Linked DNA regions of Homo sapiens. The protein of the gene in region 2 purifies or fractionates together with the protein of the main gene of each other region. This does not show direct contact. Each region holds a gene or a part of one and is shown on either strand. Other genes may lie near its edges.

Region 1 (4,007 bases), on a different chromosome or scaffold from region 2:
TTTGCCTCCCAAAGTGCTAGGATTACAGGCGTGAGCCACCATGTCTGGCCAGGTATTTTTTGTTTTTTGTTTTTTTTTGTGACACAAGGTCTCACTCTGTCACTCAGGCTGGAGTGCAGTGGCACGATCTCGGCTCACTGCAACCACTGCCTCCTGGGTTCAAGCAATTTTCCTGCCTCAGCCTCCTAAGTAGCTGGGACTATAGGTGCCCACCACCGTACCCAGCTAATTTTTTGTATTTTTAGTAGAGACCAGGTTTCACCGTGTTGCCCAGGCTGGTCTCGATCTCCTGACCTCGTGATCCGCCTGCCTCAGCCTCGCGAAGTACTGGGATTACAGGCGTGAGCCACTGCGCCCCCAGGTGTTTCTTTACAGCAATGTGAGAACCGCCTAACAGCCCACTAAATTGATTTTAGGGTCCAGGAATGGGTCGCTATCCATCATCTGGCGAACGCTACTCTACGAGGCGGGTTGTGTGCCCACTCACTGTACAGATGAGGGAACTGAGGTAGGGAGAGGTGAAGCCACTTGCTGATGATCCTGCCGTGGAAGGCGGTGGGGCTGGGCCCGAATTCCAAGCCTGGGTTATCTCACAGCCTCTGGTCTGAGCCCCACCCCGCCTGCCCAGCTGGCCCAGGTGCCCACAGACCCTTCACCTGCAGGGTGTGGCCTTGGGCCTGCACCCGGGCCCCCCACGCCCGAAGTCGTCTTGCGCTCAGCTCCACCTCCGCCTCCGCAGCCTTGAGCTCCGCTCCCTGCCTCTCCAGCCTCGAGGCCAGGGTAGACTTCCGGCGCTCCAGTGCAGCCGCCAGGGCCCACAGCAGGGCTGCCCGGGCTCCTGGGGACTGGCCCGCCCAGCTGTGGGCAGACAGCGCACAGTGGGGGTTGGCATCCTGGTCTTGGCTCTCCTGACACCCCACCTCTGTCCACAGCCCCTACCCTGGGGGCCCAGCCTCCCAGTCCACCAATTGCTGTGGGCAGGCTCCCCTCTCTGCCACACCATGACCCTTGGGCTTTCCCGTGTGACCCCTTACCCAGGGAAAGCCTGGTGAGCGGCCTCCACAGCACCTCGGATGTCCTTGGCTCCACCCTCAGCCACGTAGCCATGGAGGTTGCCAGACGAATCCCGGATGGGCCTGGAGCTTCGGGCCCCAGGAGCCTGGAAACGGCCCCCAACGAAGAGCCCATAGGGGGGTGCTGGGCTGGAGTAGGGTGGGACATGAGGAGGAGTCCTGGGGCCTCAATCTGCTCAGACCCTATGCTCTACCGCACTGGGAAGACTGCCTTGGCTCCCGTGAGCCTCTGGGGCACCCCAAACCCCTGTTCCCATGAGCCTCTGGGGGACCCTAAAACTCCTGCTCCCATGATTCACTGGGGGACCCTAAACTCCAGCTCCCATGAGCCTCTGGGGGACCTTAAACTGCTCCCATGAGCCTCTGGGGAACCCCAAATTCCTGCTCCCATGAGCCTCTGGATGACTCAAGTTTCTGCTCCCATGAGCCTCTGGGGGACCCCAAACCCCTGTTCCCACTAGCCTCTGGGTACCCTAAACTCCTGCTCCCATGAGCCTCTGGGGGACCCTAAACTCCTACTCCCATGAGCCTCTGGCAGACCCTAAACTGCTCTCATAAGCCTGTGGGGCACCCCAAATTCCTGTTCCCATGAGCCCCGGAGGACCCAAAGCTTCTGCTCCCATGAGCCTCTGGAGGACCCTAAGTTCCTGCTCCATGAGCCTCTGGGGGACCCTAAGCTCCTGCTCCCATGAGCCTCTGGTAGACCCTAAACTGCTCCCTTGAGTCTCTGGGGGGACCTCAAACTCCTGCTCCCATGAGCCTCTGGAGGACCCCAAGTTTCTGCTCCCATGAGCCTCTGGGGGACCCCAAGCTCCTGCTCCCATGAGCCTCTGAGGGACCCCAAGCTTCTGCTCCAGTGAACCTCTGGGGGACCCCAAGCTCCTAGACCCATGAGTTTCTGGGAGAGTACAGACATTCATGGGGCAGAGCTGAGAGTCTCGGCAGGCCTGGGGTAGGGAAAGTGTGAGGCCACAACGTGGTACTCAGCAGGACTAAGAGATGGTTTGGATGGACCTCGCGCCAGCCCTCCAGTCCACGGGGAAACAGGCATCAATTCCCCTCTCCCCGTTCACACTCCCAGACCACTGGCCCCCAACGACTCACCTGGGCCCTATTTCAGGCCCAGCCGGCAGGGTTGAGGGAACAGCGAGGCCAAAGGTGTCATAGTTCAGGTTCTTGGAGAGGCAGGACAGCCGGGCAGGGGTCCCTGAGGGCCGCAGATACTCATACAGCCCCTGTGAGAGGGACGGTGTCAAGAGGATGCAAGGGGCACGCGAGGCCGGATGCGAGTGTCAAGGGCATGGGGCGGCGGGGGGGCTGGTGACGGGGAGGGGATGTACTCACGTCTGGGCCCCCGTGCCAGGAACACCCACTCTCCTTGCAGCCGCCTGTGGGCACCGAAGGGTCTCTGAGGCCGTGGGCGTTGATCCAGACAGTGCCCACCTGGAGCCTGTGGGGAAGATGAAGGTGTCCAACAGAGGAAAACAGACGGTGGCAGGCCGGGAGAGGGGTGAGTTAAAGGCGCGGGGAGCGACCCAGGGAGAAGGGAGATGAAGATGGAAGAATGAGGAGAGGAGTGAGCGCCCGGGCCACGCAGACTGACCCATAGCCCAGCTCCAGCGCCTGCCCCAGCCTCTCGCTCCACACACTGGCGCTGCCCCCGCGGGGCGTCCCGTTGGCCACCAACAGTGCCTCCTTGGCTGTGCGGAAGGGGGAGGCCACGACCACAGGCCACGGCACCTGCAAGGGGTGACCGGGAGGCTCAGCCCTCCAGGGCCCACCCACCAGGGAAGGAGCCTAGAGCAGGCAGCAGCCCCCACGCCCAGGTCACATGGTTACCCCAAGGGCTTCCCCAGGCACAGAGCTGCTGCCCTTGGCTGGCGGTGGGTAGGAGCTCTGCAGCCTTAAGGGTCTCACCTCCACCTGGGCACATGGGGAGGCTGGGGGCAGGTTGGAGACCAAGGTTGGGGGATAGAATGGGCGTTCCGAAGGCACATCACCAGCCTGGAACACCTAGGGAGAGAAATGATCTAGAAGTCGACTTCTGGTCCCTTCCTGCTGAGACCGAGGACTGCAGGACCCCAGCCCCTCCTCCCTCAGACCCAGGAGTCCAGGCCCCCAGCCCCTCCTCCCTCAGACCCAGGAGTCTGGACCCCCAGCCTCTCCTCCCTCAGACCCAGGAGTCCAGGCCCCCAGCCCCTCCTCCCTCAGACCCAGGAGTCTGGACCCCCAGCCCCTCCTCCCTCAGACCCAGGAGTCCAGGCCCCAGCCCCTCCTCCCTCAGACCCAGGAATCCAGGCCCCAGCACCTCCTCCCTCAGACCCAGGAGTCCAGGCCCAGCCCCTCCTCCCTCAGACCCAGGAGTCCAGGCCCCCAGCCCCTCCTCCCTCAGACCCAGGAGTCTGGACCCCCAGCCTCTCCTCCCTCAGACCCAGGAGTCCAGGCCCCCAGCCCCTCCTCCCTCAGACCCAGGAATCTGGACCCCCAGCCCCTCCTCCCTCAGACCCAGGAGTCCAGGCCCCAGCCCCTCCTCCCTCAGACCCAGGAATCCAGGCCCCAGCACCTCCTCCCTCAGACCCAGGAGTCCAGGCCCAGCCCCTCCTCCCTCAGACCCAGGAGTCCAGGCCCCCAGCCCCTCCTCCCTCAGACCCAGGAGTCTGGACCCCCAGCCTCTCCTCCCTCAGACCCAGGAGTCCAGGCCGCCAGCCCCTCCTCCCTCAGACCCAGGAGTCTGGACCCCCAGCCCCTCCTCCCTCAGACCCAGGAATCCGGGCCCCAGCCCCTCCTCCCTCAGACCCAGGAATCCGGGCCCCAGCACCTCCTCCCTCAGACCCAGGAGTCCAGGCCCAGCCCCTCCTCCCTCAGACCCAGGAGTCCAGGCCCCAGCCCCTCCTCCCTCAGACCCAGGAATCCAGGCCCCAGCACCTCCTCCCT
Region 2 (2,563 bases):
TTTTAGGAGATGCTGGCTTTGAGCTTGGTCTTCACAGATTCTTGTCAGATATGGACATGCAGAGACCCTAGGGGGCCAAGGATGGAAAACTTGGTTATGTTCCTTATCTAAGATGCAGGAGCAATGAAAGTAGTTGGCATTGCTAGGGTAGTTCAAGCTTGCTCCATCTTTCCATACAATTCAGGCAGAGAGTAGCTTTTTTTTTTCTTTAAAACCAGCTTCTACATTAAGGACACAAGAGACCAGCTCTTAATATTCACCCCATCTTGGCTCTAGGATCCAACTCTGTACCTACGATAAGGTCACCGTGGCAGTTGAAGCCTGCTGCCCCGATACTTGGGGGAAGAAATGGTTTAAACCACATTTTCCTAACCACCTGATTTTTTATGTTAGGGATGGGTGTGTGGGAACAGTCAAAAAGGAAAGAAAAGGAGTAGAAAGCTGTTGCACTGTTAAAATGGCAGATGTTATCATTGTTTCAAATTAATGTGCAAGGCCCATTCCAATAGTTTGACTTTATTAAATCAATAGAACGGGATCTCAGTGGTTAAGCCGTCTTAACAGGGCCAGGTCTCTTGAGGTAGTTTTTGGGCCATCAGTTAATTACATCGACTTTCCAGGAAACAGACTATGGAGAATGAGAGGAATCAGACTGCCTGTCACACACCTCTCATGGAACCCCCTAGTGACACCTATAAGGACGTTACAGATCTAGTTCCAGACTTTACAGATCTAGTTCTATTTTCTCAAGTTACAGATGGGGAAACTGAGGCCCCAGCAGGGGGAGGGGATGTATCTAAGTCACTAGTGAGTTGGCGGCAGTCAGGTCTCTTGATTCTTTTCCCCATACTCTCAGCCCAACTTCTCAGTGGAGAGGGGCTGGCAGGCCTGCTCTCTGGATAGAATGTAGCAAAAGGCCCGTGGTCAAACTGATACGGGGTGGGGAAGGTTGGTGGGCTCTCAGCCATCAGCCATTCTCATCTTACACGTGAAAAACTCAGCTGAGAGAAGGGAAGTGACTTCCCCCCTCAGGGTAACACCCAGGACTGGAGCTTGGATCTCCTGCTTCTCAGCCTCCTAGAAGCTTCCACAATGGAATACAAAAGGAAAGGTATATGGCGGCATGGCCAGTCTGGAGAAAGGGATCAAGTTAATGACTTTAAATACAAATAATCTGAACAAATGACTAGATAAAAATTGATTTCCCTAACATGATCTCACCCTCCATGAGCTGTGCTGTTTCTGGAGAGAGCAGTCCAGGAAAGGGGTGTAGGAAAATGCAGTGTTAGAACGAACACCAAGGCTGCAAATGGGGGCAGGGGTGGGCTGGGGGCATTTAGACAGTCTGCACTGGGGTCAGTAAATCCATGACTCCATCTTTGGTGAGGAAGGCCACCTCACCAGTGTTCTGACACCAAACCTCAAAATGTGCAGGGTCCTCCAGGGCCCTCTTGCCAGCGATTATCACAAAGGGGTAGCCAAACTTGTTGGCATCTTTCAGTCTGTTTCCGATGGTCAGATGGGTCCTGTCGTCCAGGAGCACCTCCCCGTGAAGCTGAGGCACTGCCTCTGTGATGTGGTCGTACAGCTGCCCTATGAGCTCGGAGGCCGCCTGCTCCTTACTGCCCTTCTTAGGGGGGATGAGGCAGGCTTGGTAAGGGGCCAGTAGGCTGGGCCAGCGGACACAGTCTTCTGTAGAGAGGACTTCAATGGCAGCAGCCAAGATCCGTGTCACACCCAAGCCATAGCACCCCATTTCAGCCAGGGTTGGTTTGCCACAGACATTGGTAAACTGGGCATTGAAAATGGATGAGTACTTGGTACCCAGGTAAAATGTGTGCCCCACCTCAATGCCTTTGGTTTTAGTCAATGGGCCCTGGCAAGCAGGGCAGTTCATTTGTGACAAGTCTAGTGTCTCCATGTTGGCTGAGAAGCTGCAGCGGGGACAGATGGCAAGCCGGTCCTCTCCAATATCCACTGGGAGCTGGAACTCATGAGACACTGTGCCCCCGATGGTGCCCACATCGGCCTGGACCTTGACAAATGGCAGCCCTAGCTTGTTGAACAGGCTGCAGTAGGCATCACACACCAGGCTGTAGGTCTGCTGGGCAGCCTCTGGGGAGGAGTCAAAGGTGTACATATCCTTCATGTAAAACTCTCGGCCACGGAGAAGACCAAAGCGGGGCCTGGGCTCATCCCGAAACTTCCTTGTCACTTGGTACAGCAGGAAGGGAAGCTGCTTGTAGGACAGTTTCTTCTGGGAGGCAATTAAGGCCGTAATGGCTTCCTCGTGAGTTGGTCCTAAGCAGTATTCCTTGCCATGCCTGTCTCTAAGTCTTAGCAGCTCTTTGCCCATCAAGTCCCACCGGTTGGTGGCTTGCCAGAGCTCTGCCGGGCTGAGGCTGGGCATGTTGACTTTCTGGCCCCCGATGGCCTGCATCTCCTGGTCTATCACTCGCACGAGCTTCTCCATGGCACGGACGGTATATGGCAGGAGGTGGTAACAGCCGGGGCTTGCTGGGTAGATCAGGCCCACCTGCAGCATCAGCCGCTGGCTCTTACA

Evidence for each region.
Region 1: the proteins of PARS2 (region 2) and ALDH16A1 fractionate together in Homo sapiens (co-fractionation; one large-scale study listed by BioGRID). This does not show direct contact.

What each region holds. Positions count from the first base shown.
Region 1 is NC_000019.10:49,462,933-49,466,939, reverse strand, and holds part of ALDH16A1 (aldehyde dehydrogenase family 16 member A1), read right to left. Parts: intron 3,087-4,007; coding exon 2,991-3,086; intron 2,814-2,990; coding exon 2,677-2,813; intron 2,524-2,676; coding exon 2,418-2,523; intron 2,309-2,417; coding exon 2,178-2,308; intron 1,203-2,177; coding exon 1,035-1,202; intron 859-1,034; coding exon 657-858; intron 1-656.
Region 2 is NC_000001.11:54,756,398-54,758,960, forward strand, and holds the end of PARS2 (probable proline--tRNA ligase, mitochondrial precursor), read right to left. Parts: coding exon 1,337-2,563; 3' UTR 501-1,336; downstream 1-500. UniProt on the Homo sapiens protein: Mitochondrial aminoacyl-tRNA synthetase that catalyzes the specific attachment of the proline amino acid (aa) to the homologous transfer RNA (tRNA), further participating in protein synthesis.